2 separate regions of the Homo sapiens genome follow, and region 2 is linked to region 1. A link means that fine-mapping ties the variant in region 1 to the expression of a gene that starts in the linked region. Tissue or cell type: lung. Region 1 holds a variant in brackets; the other region holds the start of a gene. All regions are shown on one strand. Distances are from middle to middle.

Region 1 (11,036 bases):
ACCTATCTCCAGACTGCGTCTCATGTGAGGCTAAAAACTCAGTCATTTAAGTCAGGTATTCTGTTTCTTGCATTCAAATGCACCCTAACTTACATAATGATGACTTACATTTCATAAATAAGGGAACAGAAGCTCTGAGAGGAAAAATCATTAGCCCCATGTCACATATCCAGGAAGTGACAGAATGAGGACTTGAGTTTAGGTCTAATTCACTTTCTAATCCATGCTTCTCAACTACAGGAGCTGACATTCTAAACAGTGTTTAAAATCATAGTGTGGAACCATGTTATTAACAAATAACATAGCTTTTGTCAGAATCTAGACTGAAGTTCAAATTAATCAATCGGCATCCATGATATAAATGCAACTGCTTATAAAAATGTAAAATTGTATATTTACAAATCTGTTTATAAAGTTTTCTCCAAAAATTATAATTATTCATTAATTCAACAAAGTGCATTAAGTACTATGCCTAATAATTTGTTCAATTGAATTCATCATATTATTCTTTTAAGATTAAGAATTTCTCTTTTCCTAATGACTGCTCTAAAAACACCAGAGACAGGTTTCTTCCCTTTTATGTATCTATGGCTTAAATAATAAATCTTAGTTTAAATAGTTCTTCAATGAAAAAAAAAGTTTTCATAGCCCTCAAAATTTTCACAAGTCCTCTCTTAATGTATTTTTGTCACAGCATTAAGAAAGTTTATATAAAAATTCTATAGCATAATTATGGTTAATAATTTCTATTTTGAGTGAAATGTTTACTTACCTACAGTATGATTTATTTCATATTCAATATAATTTATTTTAATCCCTGGACCAATGGGCAAGGTAAATTTGAATGGTTGAGTTAGCTGAATATAAAATAACAATTTTTTTTTTTTTTTTTTTTTTTGAGACGGAGTCTCGCCCTGTTGCCCAGGCTGGAGTGCAGTGACACGATCTCGGCTCACTGCAAACTCTGTCTCCCAGGTTCACACCATTCTCCTGCCTCAGCCTCCCGAGTAGCTGGGACTACAGGCGCGTGCCACCACACCCGGCTAATTTTTTGTATTTTTAGTAGAGACGGGGTTTCACCATGTTAGCCAGGATGGTCTCGATCTCCTGACCTCGTGATCCGCCAGCCTCAGCCTCCCAAAGTGCTGGGATTACAGGCGTGAGCCACTGCGCCCGGCCTGAATGTAAAATAACAATTTAAAAATAGATTTACCATACAACAAACACTTTTATGGTTTGTCACATGAACTAGAGACCTAAAACATTATGAATCTAACATGAAACACATTAATTCTTAAAACGTTCAGTTTAAATGTTTTTAAATGAGAAAGAAGCAACTAGTGTGACTTACACTATTAGTTAAAATAAAAAAAAGTATGCCCATATATATTCTACCTAACATGTAGAATGTCATATATATTCTACCTAACAGTGATCATGAAAACTGTACCCGTCCACCATTTTAAAAAAGATGTTTTTTCCAAAACATATGTTTTTAAATCATCGCTATATTCTAAGTATATTTTTCATATACTTACTTCCTGATCCACTAATGAAATGTCAGGCCTCAACCCCTCACAGTAATGCATGTAACGGAGAGAATTTCCTGGCAAATCTCCTCTGAGTAAGATAATTGCATCATGAGGCATAGAGGTGAGAAGGTTCTTTGCGAACTTATCAATCACATAGTTGGTCCTTTGGTCACAAACACTAAATAAAAGGATCCAAAAAAATTAAAATAGCAACACTTTGCTACAGTTTTAATAAGACTAGGCTTATTTTCTATGCCATTCTTTTCCCATCATACAATCAACATTTAGTGTTTCAATACATTCTAAAATAATATGTATATTTGAAGAGAGAATACTATCACCTGATAAGCAGCAGCTAATTGTGCAATTGAAAAAAAATCAGTCTACTGCTTACTTCTGGAGTTTATAATCATTTCCAGAAAAAGGGAATCAGTACACAAGAATAGGTCCTTTTTTCCCCCTAAGTGCAATCCAATTTTATTTTTAGAAAGTAAGATTTCTGATTCCACTTGGAGTTTAAGGCAATTTTATGTTCATTCCATTTACTCAAAGGAACTTTCAGAAATGCAAAAGGAAATCTGCCCATTTCTGACTTGAATTTGTATGGCATTTGTATGATTTTCTTGCATGCAGAGGTTGATCCTTTCCACTTCTCCCCTGAATCACAGGCCTCCTGTGTCCCTCTCTGCCTTTGGAGATCAAGAAATTGCTAGGGAATGAGACCAATGAGAAGCAAGGGGAGGACGAGTTTCCTGAGTTGTTTACTTCTCTCCAGGCATTATTTGCTATTGCCAATAACTTCATTCTTTTCAAGAATGAAGTTAACTTTCTAACTTCAAAGAAAAACTGGCATGAATTCTGACAGCATTCTATGAAAAAAGAAAAAGATGACAAAACAGTAATTAGTATCAAAAAATGAGACAAGCAATGTCCTTTCTGTTATTACCAAGTCCATTACATTTGATGGAGCTGAGAATATCTGGGGTATCACAAAACAAATGAACACCTCTAGGAACAGAATATTATCCCTGCCTTTGTAATTGATGTAAAAATTACTGTTTCCTACCTGATTCCCTATGTTGCAGAGTGATGAGGCACATTTTGCCACCTAGCAAAAGTGCTATGTATTCCATTCCCCTGGGACAAATAAAAAAAATCAAAACAAGATAAAAACACCTAGCCTGTGCAAATATGTCTGGTGTCGAACCTGGACTGCCCTAATGGCCTGAGCCAGGAGATGACTGGGATAAGAAAAGGTTGGGAAACACACTGTGGGCTTGGTGCACCTTCTTGAGCTAGCGATGATGTTGTGTCCAGGACACGCAGCCCCTTCTCTCAAGGCCTCCTGGTGGCCTTCCTAACACCAGCTCTACCCCAGTATTATAAAGAACAATGTTGTGGGTTTTTTTAACTTTTATTTTATGTTCAGGGTACACGTGTGGGTTTGTTGTTATAAAGGTAAATTCACGTCACAGGGTTTGTTGCACAGATTATTTCGTCACCCAGGTATTAAGCCTGGCACACAATAGTTATTTTTTTCTGATCCTCTCCCTCCTCCCAGCCTCCACTCTCAAGTAGGCCCCAGTGTCTGTTGTTCTCCCTCACTGTATCCATGAGTTCTCATCGTTTAGCTCCCACTTATAAGTGAGAAGATGCAGTATTAGGTTTTCTGTTCCTCTGTTAATTTGCTAAGAATAATGGCCACCAGTTCCATCCATGTTCCTAAAAAGGACATGATCTCATTCTTTTTATGGCTGCCTAGTGTTCCATGGTGTATATGGACCACATTTTCTTTTTCCAATCTGCCACTGATGGGCATTTAGGTTGATTCCATGTCTTTGTTATTGTGAATAGCGCTGTAATAAACATTCGCATGCATGTGTCTTTATGTTAGAATGATTTATATTCCTTTAGGTATATACCCAGTAATAAGATTGCAGGGTTGAATGGTAAGAACATTGGTTTTTAAAGTTAAGTTAAAAGAGAAAATGTAATCCTTTAAAATAATACCAGTCCAATCTCACTATAGCAAAATTCCAAGGGACTCTCTTCCATTTCCATAATGTGTACTTGATATTGCTGGAAATAAACGAACTATAGTCTAAGACTTAGACGTCTTTTATGTCAGACTGAGATTTTTATTGTAATGGTTATTAAACAGATTTTTTGAAAAATACATGTAATACTAATAATATATGAGTTAAGAAACTTTAGAACTTAATTTAAAAATAATTAAGGCTGGTATAGTGGTTCACACCTGTTAATTCCAGCACTTTGGGAGGCTGAAGAGGGAGGCTTGCTTGAGACCAGGAGTTCAGGACCAGCCTAGGCAACATAGTGAGACCTTGTCTCTACAAAAAAAAAAGAAAAAAGGCATGCTAATGGTGGCATGTGTCCATAGTCCTAGCTACTGAGGAGGCTGAGGCAGAGGACTGCTTGAGCCCAGAATTTCACGGCTGTAGTAAGCTACGATCATGCCACTGTACTCCAGCCTAGGGGACAGAATAAGACCTTGTCTCAAAAAAATTAGTATTTACTACTACAGAGTAAACTGGACATAAAGGGAAGCATAAAGTGAATTATTTTAGGGTATACAAAAAACTCTAAATCATTTTACTCTCCATCTAAGTGGTATTTTAGGTCATGGAATTTTACCTATACTAGGGATTCTAAAAGTATCTCTTGGGTTCTTAAGAGAAAAAGATACAAATTGTCTACACGCACCACCTAAACCCTTGTTTGCAATGGCCTGAAACCATTCATCGCCCATGCTTTAACTTTTAGGTTTAACGACCCTAAAAGTTAAAGAACTACTGCATTCAACCAAGCTGTCTCACTTTGAGTCTTGAAAACCAGAAGTTAACAATGAAATAAAGTGTTAGAATCTAAATATTCAGGTATCTCTGGCTTGACAGCTACTTTTCATAAAAATAACCATGTATTACCTGTAATTAGAATATATTTGGTAAACTACAAAAAGAGTTGCAGAAAGCCATTCCAGACACTGAAGCCCATTGCTATTCAGCACTCGGTTAGTCTCAGACACAACTGCAGCCAAACCAATGCCAGCGAGGACGGCCACTACTGCATTGCTCTGCATCCAGAATCGTTCCACCTGTGAAAGAGACATGCAACCAGTGGGTCCAGTTGACTATTTAATGCTATCAATCAGCTCCTCATATATTTTTTAAATATGCTGCATGCACCTAGTTGTGTGTGCCTGTTGTCATTCAGGTTTTGTTAACTGATTTCCCCAATCCAAGCCCAGGTCATTTTATTTTTCTATTTTCAAACATTCTTCCTTCCCAGTTTGACAGGTGCATCTCCCTTTTCAGATCCACACATTCATTTCAATACTGTGGCCTTAGTCTTGAACTCCAGTAATATACAGGCTGAAGGAGTTAGAGAAATGCTTTTGCTTTACTCCTGATGTTTCCTTCCACATGGAGAAGCTCCACTGTCCTGGCCTGTCTCTGACCCCTCACGTATTTCCTCCTATAGGATGTAGGGACTGATCTGACTGGGGAGTTTGGGAGCTGGGACTGGGCCTGCAGCGCCCTCCCTTTTCATCTCACTTTCTCCTGGAAGTGAGCTACCCACAGGAAGCACTTGTCCAGGGCTAGAGTCTATCTCTGTGGCACCAGTGGGGTGGGGGAGACAGGGAAGAGGCCTGACCTGCACAGCACTGCCTATGACTAGTGGGTAAATCTGTCTATTCTGGGATGCTGGAAGAGGAAGCCCCCTTGGCTACAGATATAAGCTGCATTTTCCAATCTCAGTATTATCAGTAATAAAAGTGATTCTCCCACCCGTTGTACTGTATTACCTTGTTTCTCAATTGATTCAGAACTCAGGTGATCAAGTAGGGTATTATTTATTAGGCTTCCTGAACACACACATACGCAGACTTTGTTTCAGCTGTCAAAAAAGTGCTATTGACATTTACAGAGAATCTATTGTAAGTAGAAGAAATACTCTAATCTCAGAGACTGCTGCCAAAGAAAACAGAAATACGGTTGCTCTTTTGCCTAGGCCTGGGACTGGGGAGGTAAGAAATAAGGAAATATGTTGTTAAGTGCCCTCAATTACAATTCATATTTCTTTTGCTGTTAAAAAAATTCCAGGAGAAATGCAGTTGTACCTATATTTGCAAGCACACACACATACAATGACTTAAATCTACTTTACATTTACTTTTCTATTTAACAACTGTGTTAAACACTGCATTCTTTTTATCCTAAAAAGAGGCCTTAGCTGTATTGACTCAATAATTCAACTTTGATTTATAAAAATGTATATAAAATTTTAACTATTCCTCAAGTAATTTGCCCTTCTACAAGATTTATGAAATGCAAATTTGCACATTCTTCACAAACTTTCTGGTCAAAGGATATATCTAAGTAAAACTTACCACACCCATGAAAAGTGGTTTTGAAATATCTAAATTTGCTCTCCAAGCAAAGAACAATGAATAAATGCAAAACATTCCAGTAAAAAGCCATACTAATGATGGATTCTGTCTGTCCCTA[C/T]AAAAAATAATAAAAATATGTCTAAAATATTTAGATACATGAATGTCAAATATAATATCACAGGACTTTAAACTATTAGATCTATAAAAACTTTCCATTTTTAACTAGGAGCAAAGAGAGATTTCGGTTTTTAAAATCTGAGTTGAAACAAATAACCAAAATATAATAATAAATTTGAACTACAACTTGGGACTACGCAGTAAAGGATATAAAGCTAACATTCACAGAAGAAATGCAAACTACTGATTTTGTTAAATTTCAGAAGTGATCAAATACAGGCAAAATAGAAACATTTTCATGCTTGAAATAATAAAGATTTAAGAACGATAACTCTCAATGTTGGTGTGCAGTGGTATGACAATATATGTTAGTATAATCCTTCAGAAAATTTAATTTGATAATATCTATATCGGAAGCCTTAAAAATATTAATAATCATTGACTCAGTTATTTATCATGCAGGCATAAATCTTTAAGCAATAACCAGAAATGTAAATAAAGATTAATCCATAAAAATGCTTTGTTATTACTTATAATAGTGGAAAAAGTGGAAGCAATCTAAAGACCTCTCAATAGAAGAACAGTTAAATTAATTCTCCTGTGGTCATAGAATGTTCTATTATATAGACATTTAAATGATTTTAAGTATTTTTATAGTATGAGAAAATGTTCACAATGTTTGTGTCAAGTAAACAAAACTATAGATAAATGTACAAATATACATTTACATACAAATGCATTCAACAGACTAGATCATAAATGAATAAATTAATGGAGATTTACAGTGCTACATTTTTCAGGGTTTCTTTTGTCATCGGATCACTTTTATCATCAGAGGAATTTAAATTATTGCTTCTTTTTAAAATCAGCAATAATAATCGGTTATAGCAGAGTTAAGGGATCAAACCTGAAGTTTAGGACATCAAATGACTGTCTACTTAGATGTAATATAATGCTCAATTTCTTGAAATCATTGATTTATTTAGAATCAGAATAGAAGAAAGCAATACACGTTTATCTTAATAGACAGCTAGGAGAGTCATTTATTTGGAGTATAAAATAATACTGGCAATGTCCTACAGCGACATACTGAAAACATTAATTCAATTCATGAACATAGAAAAATAACAGAAAAAGGAATTGTATTACTTACTTTGTTGCTAAACATATATTTGCACAAACTGCAAGGGCTTGGATGTTGAATGAGAGTTCGGTCCTCATATTTGTTACTTGAGAACTGCAAAAAACAATCTAACTTATTGTTGGCAGGAAACAAATTTGATTGATTCCAAATAAAATAGTCCTTGTAAGATACCATTGATTATATACTGAACAATCACAAGGGCTGGGGTCAGATTTTAAAATTTTGTCTTTTAAAGTTGGAAGAAAAAGTGCAATAGAAAGACTTAAATAGTTCCAAGACGTTTTCCAATGGTAACATTTGGTTATCAACTTATATAATTTGGAATAGGATCAGAACAAATAATTCTTCTGTATTTTTTATATTGGTATACTGTATAGAATATCCCCGACTGGTTTGGTAGGAAGCTGTTTGAAATGAGTTTTTGAACTTTTTTCTCTTGGCAGTGTAGACATGGCCTCCAGTGATTTAGCAAATGATAACAAAATTAATTCAAATAGATTTCTGGAGATCTAATATGAAGAAAATAAAGGCCATGAGAGATAATTCCCAGCCATTCTTTTGTGGGTTATTTTTTTCCTTAATTGGTTTCCTTGTTTTCTATATTATTTGTTTTGGTTCAAAAAACATTTAAGCAATCTCAGAGAAATGTATTATGTTTTTTTCCTACAAATAAACTAAATTCTTCCATTAACTCATATGCATTTTCAGGTGTTAAAATTTGAGTTCTAAAATAGCTTCTGCTCTAGCTGTCTCCAATTGTTAAAAAAGAAATGACTCTATACATCATCTCAAAGAACTTTCTTCTCCCTACCGGCAATTTTACTGGAGAAAATGTGATACCATAATTATAGAAACCATACAATGTGTATTTTACTAATGAAGACTCATCTACTATGAGAAGATATCCTTACTCATTTTCAAATACACTTGAAAAAATTGATTCCAGCATGAGGCCCATTTCAAACCATTCTTCAAAAGGAATGAAGTCAGTCTCAAAATTATTCTTGGAGATCTATTGCTTAAGTGTAAGCGCTAAAAGATGGTCACTGCCTAAGGTTAGATTCAATAATTTCCTTGTACAGGATTGCAATTTAGAGATATGCATGGGGAAAAAATTTAATTTGCTTGACTGGAAAAGGGTAGATGATTAGCTTCTATCATTTTGAAGGATTTTCTCATAAGTTAATTATGAGTTGCCTTTTTCAATGTTCCTGCCCACCTGAAACTATTAAAGACTAGACATTCTCATTCAGGGAGTGCTAAGATTATGCCTTCATTCTACATGATGACTTGGTCCACACAGAACACAGAAGTGTGGGTGTGAGTGGTCATCACTTTTGTCAAGTCTTTTTTCTGGGTATACAGCCTGCTATTATTTTAATGTAAAGGAGGCCTTTAAGGGTCCCAATAGATGACTTTTATGTGCAACTAATAAAAGTTAGACATATGGTCTAGGATTACTCTCAAGAGTTCTTTGGAGTTCATGTAGGGTTTGCTAAGACAAAATATACCAGTTATCCTTAATGCTGTAACAATCTCTGGAAGGTAGATAGAAAAGAGCAGGCAGTGAGTCCTTCTGCATGGAGCAAAGCAGAATAAAATGAAAGCTCAGAGACATTGATATGACATTTGACTGTCTTTATCTTTATTTTTTTATTTTTTGAGACAGAGTCTCACTCTGTTGCCTAGGCTGGAGTGGCATGAAGGTGGCTCACTGCAGCCTCGACCTCCTGGGCTCAAGCGATCCTCTCACCTCAGCCTCCTGAGTAGCTGCAACTACAGGTGCATGCCACCATGCCTTTTTTTTTTTTTTTTTTAATGTTTTGTAGGCCGGTTGTGTTAGCTCACTCTGGTAATCCCAGCACTTTGGGAGGCCGAGGCAGGTGGATCACCTGAGGTCAAGAGTTTGAGACCAGCCTGGCCAACATGGTGAGACCCTGTCTCTACTAAAAATACAAAAATCAGCTGGGCGTGGTAGCACACACCTGTAATCCCAGCTACTCAGGAGGCTGAGGTGGAAGGATCACTTGAACCCGGGAGGCGGAGGCGGAGGTTGCAGTGAGCAGAGATCTCACCACTGCACTCCAGCCTGGGTGACAGGGCAAGACGCCATCTCAAAAAAAAAATTTTTTTTTTTTTTTGCAGAGACGGGTCTCACTATGTTGCCCAGGCTGGTCTCAAACTCCTGGGCTCAAGCGATCCTCCCACTTTGGCTTCCCAAAGTGCTGGGATTACAGGCATTAGCCACCGCACTCAGTGCCATTTTTATTTTTGAAAAGAAAACTGAGCTTCTTGTTACATTCCCCCAGCGAAAATGAGAAAGCCACAAAAGTCTCACACATAAAAAGAAATATTTACAATCAATGGTGAGAACCATCAAAAGGTTACGTGAAAGTAACTGATGGCAAGGAGGTATTTCCAAGATATAATGTAAAGTGAAAAACAGCAGGCTAATAAAACAGTATGTTTACTATGATCCTACTTTTAAAAAGAAATAAAAATCTTAAAAATATTAGAAAAATATAGTCATTAACAGATTAATAACAGTGGTTATCTCTGCATGTTGGATTTATAGGTAGTTTTAATTTTCTTATTTTTGCTTACCTGTATTTTCTAAGTTTTCTATAAAGCTTATGTACCTTTTTTGAAGTAGAAAAAAGAAGTTGTTTAAAAAGAAAGCAAGGAAGGATGGCTGGAAGAAAGCAAGCTATTAAGTAAATTACACCGAAACTGTGAGAACTCATAAACTGCCTCACATATAAAGTTGAAATATTCTCCTCATAGTTTTTTTTCAAACAGCCCCAAGAGTTCCAAATTAGTAATTAGTTAGGACATCACTTTAGTGTTGTAGAAACCTATTTTCTTCCAAAATTTTGTATCAAGTTGGTATGGATATCTTTCCACTTGTCTTAATCTGTAGGTTTTAAAGCAAATATTAACCCAGTTTTCAAAGAACACTATTAAATAATATACATGAAAATATATTTGCTTAAGCCAGCTCTAATAAGGTTGGATGTTAAAAATATGTAAGCCAAAGATAGAGCTTACGGCAAGGATAGCCTAAAGAAGTCATAGGAGACATTACATAAATTAAACTCTGAAATACTAAAATCCAAAATAACAAGAAAATAGTTGTTCAATTGAAGGTTGAAACATTTTAGTTCTATAAATGCTCTATATAGTATTCTAATATTCACCGTTGTGTTTATTGCTCATTTTAAGCTCTATCTTAGTGAAGGAGGTGCTAAAAATATTTGACAGTACAGTCGGCCCTCTGTATCCATGGGTTCTGCCTCCATGGATTCAATTAACCTTAAATCAAAAAAAAAAAAAAAAAGTTGGGGAAAAAACTGTCTGTACAAACATATACAGATGTTTTTTCTTGTCATAATTCCCTAGACAATACAGCATAACAACTATTTACATAGCATTTACATTATACTAGGTATAAATTATCTAGAGATGATTAAAAGTATACAAGAGGATGTAAATAGGTTATATACAAATATTATGCCATTTTATATCAGGACTTGAGCACCCATGGATTTTTATATCCTTAGGAGTTCCTGTAACCAATACCCCATGGATACTGAGGGACAACTGTAAACACAAACAACTGTTAACTGTAGAGGTAACAACTACTTCTCAGACATACTTTGTTACAAAGAGATGAACTCAGAAATCCCTAAAATCACTTAAAGGAACTAATAGAGAATTCATTTTAAAGTAGTTTCAAATATTTCATACTCACAGCAGTATTTCAGACATACTGGATCCTATTTCAGATTTGGCCTAAACACAAAAGACAAAAGTTTATCTGCACAAGCATTAA
Region 2 (11,036 bases), 38 kb after region 1:
TAAACTTTCTTAATTCCTAAAACTGTTAATGAGAGCATTGATTAAACAATAAAACTAATACTTACTCCAAGCTCATGTGCGGCTGTGATCAGTTCCCCTGTGAAAAAATAATGTAAAACCAATAATTACTATTAGAGAATGACACTCCTCCAAAGTTTTCAAAATCCAAATGCTTGCATTGGGGTTTTGCATTAATTTGACTGGATAAAACTGTAAATCTGTAGAGATTTAACAGCATGAAATAGTCTAAGAATATTTTCTCCTTTAGGTCTTATTGAACAAACTATCTTTGATAGTCTTTAAGAAGTGGTCAGTGGAAATATAGGTACATTCTGGTCTTTAAAAAATGCTTATTTTCCCTCTTGAAAGTTGTATCCACTTGCAAATATACAAATACTGTTGGAGCATTAGTGTAATATGCTTTATTATCCCTCAAGAAATTAGCACGAAAGTCTATAAAGATACAACCTTATAGTAAGGTAAAATGCGCAGACATCTGAGGTTTGGACACTCCATAAAATGTCCCATACTACCCTAAAACTGGCATTTGGGTATCTTCTCCACATTAATTGCACTGGATATCTTTAAATGATTTCCAAGTGTTTATTAACTCCACGTTATTTCGGTAAGGTTCACTGTAAGACATTTTTTCAAACCATTAAATAATATTCTTTACATAGTCCTTTATAGTTCCTCACCATTAGTGACTATTTCTAAAATTATGATGCAGTAATTTGATGCCTATTTGTTAACCTTTTACGTATTCAGAGCACAGGGACTATTTCTGACTCATCCCTGTACATTGTAGTACCGTACAATGTAAGGAATCAATATTGATGAATGACTCATGAAAGTTACTAGTACCTATTAGGAAATGTACTACTGTCCACTTCCTATCCTTTCATAGATAGCAATACTCTGCATTTAATTTCTGTCCCAGCTACAATTTAGACCTTTACTCTCTCTGGCCTGGACTATGGCAACAGACTTGACCAATCCTACTTCAATTCATCTTCATACTGAAATCACTTATAATCAACACCTGCCTTCCCCCATGCCCCTAAACACATACACACACACACACACACACACACACACACACACACAAAAGGCTGGATTGCATCCCTAGTCTAAAATTTCTCAATGGCTGCTCTCTGCTTACTGAACGAAGTTCAGATTCCTCAGCATGACGTTCAAGCTTTCTATGGTTTCAAGGTCCCTTTTCTAGGCTTATATCCATGAAACCTATGTTCCCTCCAGTCAAATCTTATTACCCACTGTTTCTCTGGAGTGGTCCTCTTTTGCACCTCTTCTCACTCATTTTCTCACCCTGGAATATTTTCCCTAGCATTCTCCCCCTAAATCCTTCAAGGCCAAGTTCAATTGCCACCTTCTTGGTAACCTTTCCTTAGACACCTGCTTCCCCAGCCTCCCCATCAGAATTAATCACTTCTTCCTCCTCCATAGAACCTGCTTGAGTCTATTTAGCACTTTAGATGGCCTTATATTCTGGTTGGTTTTCATTTCTCTCTCCCACTAAGTTTAAAAACATTATCCTATCCATTTCACGATCGTGCCAGGATACCACCACCTCTCCCCTCTGGCCACACACAAAGCATCAATTCAAGCCATACACACAGAGGTTAACAAAAATACACATCACATTGTCATCCTTGCTACTAAGACACCCCAGTCTTAGGTGACTGCATCATGGAAGCCTTATAAGGGCACCTGAAGACAGATTAAGTCAATTACTTAAGGACATTTGTTAAGAGATATTCAAGAGCACCTGAGAAACCAGCACATTTTATATCCTAAATGCTTCTTTTTAAATAGTTTATGGTCTCACAATGTCTCAAACAACTGTTCCCTTTGTTAACTACTGTAAAGGATATGATTTTATAGTTTACTCCATAATGGATTAGCTCTTAAGTCTTTAGCTCCAAACTATTTTCGATTTTTTTGTTCCTGTAATCTTTTTGTAACGAAGCCACCATAAATTCAAAATTTCAAAGGTCACTATTCATTCTCCTCCATTTAAAATGTATTCAGAATTACATTTAACATTAAGAAAAATAGGCTGTTTTTCTCTAACTTCTTTTTACCATGGAAAAGTCAGTGTGCTGTTATTATTTGCCAGACTTCTGCTGCTATAAAGATAAATCTGGAATGTGACAAACTTTCATCAATTCTTATCAAATGTTAAACTAAAATCGAAATAGAAAAGATGTCCCCATTCAACGTCTCTAAATGTAACCTTGATAAAGATCTAAAGGGAAATACTACTCTTAAATTGATTGTGATAAAGAGGAAGGGAATAGTAAAAAAACCTCGAGCTTCCCGAGTCTTGGCTTTCTCCCAACCCTTTACATGAAAGGTTCCTCAGTTGTGTCTACCTGCATCAGAATTAACCTGCTTTTTAAAAATGAAGATTCCTTGCCCACACCTCCAAATTCCATAATCTACTAAGACCCACTTGCACTGGGGGCTCAAGTTTCCCAGGTAATTCTGAAGTACGTTCCTGTCTGAGAACCACGGCTTTGTTGTCTGCAATACAAACTAATGGCAAGCCCAGAGTTGTCAGCAGATGCTTAACCTTTACAAAAACCAGCTCCCTTTATATCATACTTCTCAATATTAATTAGACTAGACTGTCACACATCACATCTGTTAAAGACAGTATCTTTGAAATAAACTCACGTACAAACTAATTTAGTGAAGGCCAGATTCCTACCCCCTCCCCGAAAAGCACCACAAGCACCCTGCCCATAAATGAACTGTGTGTGTCAAGTGGTACAAAAAATAATTTTGGCAAGACGACACAATGTGATGAATCTATGGAGTAAAATGTAAGACTTATCAGGAAGAAGAATACATGCTTTATACTGGTTTTGAGATGTGTTCTGTTTATTGATGAAAATATAATTCATAAACATTCAAGAATAGTGCATTCAACATGTAAACACAATTATCAAATATACGATAAAGCAAATTTTCCATATTGGCATATACTTGGAAAACAGTTTATCATTCCCAAAAATGAACATAAAAATATTAGAAGCAACCACTATTTAACATCAAACCAAACAAAATTAAAGCACCTAAAGTTTGGTAACTCAAGGTGAATACACAACTTTATTCTTTTAGGAAAAAATAAAATACAGTATTAATAAAGGCAAGGCAATAATCATGATTTTAAATAAATTTTAAACATCACTACATATGTGATGGTGGATTTAGAAAAGAATTTCATGAAATGTTTTGACGAAAAGTAGAGGTTAAGGGGGCATATTCTGAAGTCAATATACTTTTCTTTTCCTGATTTCTCTACTTTGTGTGACTTTGGGCATAGCTTAGCCTTAGTTTTCCCATTTATAAAAGGAAAATAATAATTGCACCTACTTTTAAGGGTAGCTGGGAGGGTTAAAACAACAACCCATATAAAGCACTTGGAACAGTGCCTGGCACATAGTAAGTGCCCAACAAACGTCAGTTATTATAAATCTCACTCCCATCCTTCACACTCAACCAACCATAAGTAGCTGTCAATCTTTTTATTTTTTTACAAGTAACAGAACTACCTAACCTCTGAATAATGCTCTCCAGCACCAAAACTCACAACTATAAAGTTACTTCCATTATGAAATACCAATCTTGGTAACACTGTACAGAAACTCCCTACTACACGAATGAAACACTATCCCTACTTGTGCAACAGGACCTGAAAGAAGAAAGGTAACAATTTGAAGATGTAACATCAAAGATCTTCAACGTGGTAGGCAGCCCTAAATATGATCCCCACTAATCCCCAAGTCCTGATATTCTCACCTGTGTAATCCTTCCCCCTTGAATATGGGTTGGGTTTACTGACGAAGTTCCAGGAATAAAATGCAGAAGTGGTATATCACTTACAGTATTAGGTTACAAAATGACAGAGCTGTCAGACAGAGAGGTGTCCTTCATCTTTTTCTTGACAGAAGTCAGTTAACTTATGGAGACCCACATAGCAAAGAACTAGATTGCGTTTCTCCCCAAATTGAGCCTTGAGAAGACCGCAGCCCCATCGCACACCATGACAGCAACCTTTTTCTGAGTACGAGCATCTAGCTTAAACGGCACCCAGACTCCTGATTTACAAAAACGGGAGACGATAAACGTTTGCTGTTTAAGCTGCTCAATTTGGGGATCACTAGTCATGCAGCAAAAACTGCTTCTTCAGTCCATAGGTTCACCACCTGAAATTACAGCACTATTCTGACAAAATTACTGGCCATGATATGGCATTATTGAATCCAAAAACAAAACATGGATCTTGTTTCTTGCATCAAATACAAAACAATTAGTGTGATTTAAGGGCCAATGAGTCATGCTTTTCTTTTTCATAGAAACAGCCGCACCTGGCTTCCACCTTTTTAAGAGTTCTCCTGCAAATATTCTGCATGGCTAGTTCCTTCTCAATATTCAGGTTTCAACTAAAACACCACCTCTTCAGAGGTCTTTCCTGAATAGTCATTCGGAAGGACCCACTACTTACCCCCACTCTCAATCATATTTCCCTCCTACTGTCTCCATAACTTATCACCAGTGAATATGCTGTTTATTCATTAACTTGTGTATTGTCTAACCGCACTGGAACACTAGCAATTATCTGTTCGCCACTACTGTTCTTTTGTTTGAAACATAATAAGGACACCGTGAATAATATCTGTGGACTAAAAAAGACTGAAAGTAAATACTCAGGACCAGGATAAAAGATCTGGGGAAGTGGAGAGGTCGATAAGCCCCACCAGGCGAAACCAACAATACGCCCCATCTCGAAAACCTGAGAACTAAAGAAACCACAACGACAGGAATGGAAACAGAAGTGGGCTCTGGAACACACAATAGTGCGCTGTGCACAGGGGGGTGGATGGAGGCCCAGAGCTGACCAGACCGAATGCCAAGAGCAGGGGCCAGACGCAGACCCTGCCCGTTCTGGGACCAGGGGAGAGGGACAGAAGGGGCAACCCTGCGAGTACTTTACCGGAGTCTCCCCCCGGTACCGAAGGGGGCAGGGTGAAGGTGAACACTGCGGCCACGGCGGCGAACACCGCCACGCCGCCGCGGATGCCCCCGGAGCGCCGCAGCCCCACTCGGACTGCCCGCCCCTGGGCCTGGCCCCTGCCGTCGCCATGGGGACTCATGGGCCAGTGGCGACCGAGGGAGAAGGACACGGCCAGCCCAAGAACCCGGTGCGACACGGAGCTCCCCAGCCGAGAGACGAGCGCAGCTTGTGCGGCGGCCACGGCGGCTTCCGGGTCGAGCCTCCGCGGGTTGGACCGCACCTTTCTCCGCCTGAGCGCGGGGAGGAGAAAATGCCAGGCCTCCCTTGAGCCAGGCCCTGCGAGTTTTCCCGCAGTGCACCACGCATTGGCGTTCACCTACTTATAATGTGATTTAAGGTTCCTAATCACCAGGAGAGCATTCCCTTTAAAAAGCAAGCCCGGCCACAGGCCTACCTTCTCCATGGCTATTCCCCCCTTTTATACTGACTTGGTTGGGTCTGACAGAGACCAAAGCAGCGTCGAAAACCGCGAGCGAGGAAGGGCTGCTCCTGCCCCCTACGGTGCGGGGTGGAACTGCACAAAAGGGCCACGATCAGCCAGGAGCCCCTACCTGTGCTAAAAAAAAAAAAAGGGTGGTGTATTTACCGTATGTGCAAAGTAAGCCAATAAATACATTAATCACAATTATGTATTTATTACGATTTACTACGTTACTATGACTAATTACAATAAGTCTGTGTGCTACTTATTAAATCACTGAGTAATTTTTAGAGAGATTAGAATATGCTAGTGCGTCTTTTTTTTTTTTTTTCATTCCATAGCATAATGAAAACTCTGTAGATGAGTCGGGAAATTTGAGTTCCTGTATTCATGCAGATAACTCAAACCATGATAAAGGTGTCTCCTAGTTTAATGAAGAGGAGTGTTTTGCTGGAGCTTTCAACACAGCAAAGTGGAAAATGAAATTGAATCACCATATTTTACAATGAGCTGTAACGCAAAAAAAAAGAATCGGAGCCGTTAATAAGGACAACTACATAACAGCGCAGTTAAGCTTTTTAAGCTTATGTTTTATTATTAAAGCAATTATCCTGGAGTGGGCGGGGAGGAGAGCAACCCGCATAAAATGTATCTCAAAGACACACTGAAAACCAGTGACAATCTCAAACGTGTTACGCGCAATTTGATAGAGACACAGTGACTAAACTATAGAGTAACATATACCTACCTTGACGGTCATGGGGCCAGCACACCTTAGTCTTTTCCAGGTACTTATACAATTTCCAGCCTTTTCCAGGTAATTTCTCAGCTGTACTGTGAGTTCCTGGAGGAGAGGGGCTGTGTGGTAGAGTGCTTCTAAAATGGATTCCCAGATAACCCTGCCTCCTCACTCACTTCCTGTATAAGCTGCTCGCCTTATGTGTGAGCTTAACCTAAGGATTGGCTTCTATCAATACAATAAGGCAAAAGTGATGGATGTCACTTTCAAGATTAGGTTATGAAAGACTAACTTTCATCTTGCTGGCACTCCCTCTTGTCCTCTCACTTGTTCTCTCTGATGAAGCCACCTACCATGGTGTAGGCTGCCCTGTGGAAAGGTCCACATGGGAAGAAACTGAGAGCCGCCTCTAGCCAACAGCTGGCAAGAAACTGAGACCTTCAGTCCAACAACCTTAGAGGAACTGAATCTAGGCAACACCATGTGAGGGAGCTAGGAAGTGGATCCTTCCCCCACATAAGCCTTGAGATAACTATAACTCCTGTCAAGACTTGGATTGCAGCCTGTGGATGACCCTGAAGCAGAGGACCTAACTAAGCCTCATCCAGACTGCTGTCCTATAGAAACCGCGAGATAATAAATGTTGTTTTAAGTTGATAAATGCAGGCTAATTTGTTAGTTATCAGCAATAGATAGTTAAGATAGGCTGTCTTCTATTTCTTTGCTGAAAGAACATGCCAATGAGTAACCTTGACTGGGTCAAGCATATACTTCTTTCCCTTTTTATGCATTTCACTTTTGCTCATGAGTTTTATTTAAAATTTTTTTATTTTGGAGGGGAATAATTCTTTGTCCATGTTTGGGAGGTAGAGATCAGTGCTGGAAGTACAAATTTAGGAGTTGCTCGTGTAAGGATGATATAAATGACTAACTTGATAAGGGGATAGTGTAGAGAGAACAAGGTTGAGGTCTAATGTCAGCCCATATTCTCATTTAGGGAATGGCTGGAGAAGGGGAGAGAACAGTGTAAGAGAATGAGGCATCACCAGAAGCTAAAGAAGAAAAGTCGATGAAGTACATGTGGTCAGGATGTTACAGAGAGGTAAAGGACAATGAAGAGAGGCACGTCTAGATTTTGTGAAGCTCAAGTGTATAAAACTTGGAGAATTATATGTAAGTAAACTGATATAAAACTGCAGATACAGAATTAGGCACAAGATATTGGAAGACACCTGGGCTAGAGAGGAACTGTGAGGCCTAAGCTTCATTAGCTTCATGGTTGTTTTCCTTTGAAGATTAAGAACTTCCAGTTCTCTGTTTATGTCTGACTCTACCTCTCAGTAAGCATCTGACTATTCCTTCCTCCCCGGAAGTATTTTCTTTTCTGGCCTTCATTGATAGCACACTCTTTGGTTTTCCTTTTATCAATGGCCTCCCTGCCCTGGCTCTGCTTCTGTCGGTCCCCCAAATGCTGAAGTATTCCTGGGCTGTTCTAGACTTTTCTCTCTTTCTGTCTTCTTTCCCGAGATGATCATATTGAAGCTTTAAAGGGCAACTATGGGGCAATATTTCTCAAAATTAGACCTCCTCTGCTTCTCTTTTTTAGCGACCGATTATTTTAAAAAACCCAACTGCCCCCGACCTCTCCATTTCTATGTCTAAATAGCCTGTCAAACCTGATGGACTTTGTCTAATTTCCACCATATTTAAAATGATGCCTGGCACAAAATTGGTGCTAAACAAATATTTATGTAATAAATGAATACATGAACAATCAGAGATCACTGGCATATCCGTTAGGGATTGCATTTAGCTACTAGTGACAGATCCTGCTACAGTGTCTTAAACATTAAAACAATCATTCTCTTATATAAAAGAAGTCAGAAGTCTATAGGAAGTCAGTCTACCACTGGCTTGGCAACTCCCTGATTCCACTAGGGACACAGCTGAAGTCCTCATATCTTTCTGCACCATCCCACTCAGCTCACATTCTCAAGGTCATCTACTGATCCAAGGTGGCTGCTAATGCTCCAGACATTACATCTGTTCTTGAGGAAGAAAAAGAAAGGATGGGAAGAGAAAGGCCTGCTCCAGCTTTTTTAAAAAAGCACTATTTTTTTAAATGCTATTCCACAATTTTGCTATATCTAATTGGCCAAAATTGAATAACAGGTCACTCCTAGGGGCAAAGGATGCTGCGAAATAGACTTTTCAGCTGGACAGTTTGCCTAGAATTCTATTACAAAGGAAGAAGGGGAGAATGGATACTGAGGGGCAACTAGCAGGCTCTGCATGGTTGGATTTGGTGACCTGGAGGTATTTGAACCTTGAAAGTTCAAGAGGTCAGCTTCAGTAGAGTAGTATCTACAGAAACAAGGTACTAGTGGGCTAAGAAGTGAGCAAATGGAAGACATGAAAATAAAATACATTTGCAAAAAGTTTGGCAGTGAAGGGAAAGAGAGAAATAGCATGAAAATTCACAGGGATCGAAGTGTCAAATGAAGATTTTTGAATGTCTTGTTTTGTTTGTAACTCAAGGGAGTATTTGGAGAGACATAGTGATGAAGTAAAGATGTACAGGTTATTGGAGAGGATGGGACTGAGGAGGACAGAAGAGAAGGGTTGAAGATAGAAAATGTTAGAGATAAAGAGAGAGACCTCATGATGTCTCTCTTTACACATGATGTGTAAACATGTGATCGTTGGACTTGATCCTGAGACAGACCAATAAGACATATAACGAGTATTGATTTATTGTTTGTGCTCTACATCATTCTATGATGGCTTAGAGTTAGCCACTATAATACAAACCATAAAGCAGAAAAATATGTAAATAATTTGGGATTCATCCAGAGAAACAGAACTAGTAGGAGATATGTATGATACAATTTATTGCAAGGAATTGTATAATGTAATTTTGAGGGCTGGCTAAGTAACTCTGAAGCCCGTAGCACATGCCATCAGGAAGGGAAGACTGGAACTCCTGGGCATGGCAGAAAGCTGTTGTCCACAGCTGGAAGTTTTTCTTCATCAGGGGACCCATATCCCTGCTCTTAAGGCCTTTCCACTGATTGAATCAGGCCTACCAGATTAACTATGATAATCTCACGGTTTTGAAGACAAATGAGGCTGGGCATGGTGGCTCATGGCTGTAAACTCAGCACTTTGGGAGGCTAAGGTGGGAGAATCACTTGAGGCCAGGAGTTCGAGACCAGCCTGGCCAACATGGCAAAACCCCATCAATACTAAAAATACAAAAAAAAAAAAAAAAAAAAAAAAAGCCAGGTGTGGTGGTGTTTACCTGTAATTCCCGCTACCCAAAAGGCTGAGGCACGAGAATCGCTTGAAACTGGGAGGCAGAGGCTGCAGTAAGCCAAGATCATGCCACTGCACTCCAGCCTGGGTGACAGAGCAAGACTCTGCTTGGAGAAAAAAAAAAAGTCAACTAATTATGAACTTTAGTCATATCTACAAAATACCATCACAGCAACACCAAGATTCGTGTTTGATTGAAAAACTGAGGAATGTAGCCAAGCCAAGTTGACACATTCGAAGAACATCACAGAGGCCAGGGAACACTCAATTAGATATAGAACATCAGATTGACGGAAAGTAAATACATAGATCCATGGCCCTATGGTACCCTAAATTTGGCTCTGGGAGTCTTCCTGGGATTTATGGCCAGCATCTAGCTTCTGTTGAAACCAAGGAGATGGCTCCTCATTATTGCTGAGCAGAGGTGGACATTCCACCTACCTGCCGGGCCTCTACTGCTGCCTCCCTGCTGCAAGGTAAAGGAGTCCTCGTCACTATTCCACTTGTGGTTTCCACTAGCACCACATGGTTATGGGGGTATGGAGATGGCCTCCTTTTCCTTGGACAGTGGTGAAAGTCCTGACTCTCACTAGGCTGCCTCTGATACTACCCCAGAAGGGAGGGAAAGGGGGACCTCATTCTTTTTGGGCAGGGGTGGAAGTCAAAGATCCCCACGTGGTCTCCACTGCCACCATGGAGAAGAGGGGTCTCATTACCACCCAACCAGAATGAAAGTTCTGGCTTCTTCCTTTGCCTTCTTTGACATGACCCTGGTGGCATGTGGAGGCACCTGGAGAGGGTAGAAGTCTAGGCTGCCCACTCAGCCTTCCTCATGGTTTATTCTTTGGTTTTGGCTACAGTAGAGTGATTGTTTTCTAAATGTATCTGTCTTGCCCCTTTCTTGGTCTTTTAGCTAGAGGGACGAGGCTTTTTGTTGGGGCTTTTTTTTTTTTTTTTTTTGTCTGGGCCCATTGGCATCTCTGGGTTGCTAGCTTCTTTAGCAACCAATCTGTGATATAAGGGGGAAAAAGAAGTCCAGGGACCTCACCACTCTGTTGTTCTTCAGATTTCAGAGCTCCTGCCTCAACTGCCTTTTTTTCTTCACATTTTGAAGTCTTATTATCTTTGTTTTATATATAATGTCCAGTGTGTTTAGTTGTACTTAGCAAGAAGAATTCAAAAAAAATACCTATTTCATCTTTCTGAAAGCAAAAGTCACTCCTCTTTGTTTTATTCTGAGCATTCAGAGTAGCTTCACAGACATTAATGCACTGAAATTCACCTACAAATTACAATTTAGATGTCTAATTCCCCCAAATCCCACTTGATATAAAGTCAATGTCTTAATATTTCTAATATCAGTGAAATTTAAGGTTAGCAACTTTAGACTAGAAATTGGATGCCTAGAATACCATCCGGTAATCCATCTACAATAGGAAAATGCAAGAGATACAAAT

What was found.
Region 2: it holds the start of TMEM260, and the variant in region 1 is fine-mapped to the expression of TMEM260 in lung (TOPMed, PIP above 0.99).

Annotation. Positions count from the first base shown.
Region 1 is chr14:56,612,205-56,623,240 of GRCh38, reverse strand. TMEM260 (transmembrane protein 260) reads right to left here. Exons shown (of 16, transcript NM_017799.4): 7 at 10,956-10,996; 8 at 7,214-7,297; 9 at 5,944-6,058; 10 at 4,478-4,647; 11 at 1,539-1,710. Among named protein-coding and RNA genes, the nearest start is that of TMEM260, 38 kb to the right of the region's middle. The variant C/T (reference allele first, on the strand shown) is at 6,062.
Region 2 is chr14:56,574,062-56,585,097 of GRCh38, reverse strand. It overlaps TMEM260 (transmembrane protein 260), which reads right to left and starts at 5,300. Exons shown (of 16, transcript NM_017799.4): 1 at 5,024-5,300; 2 at 66-97. The coding sequence starts at 5,183. RefSeq lists a silencer at 5,013-5,232.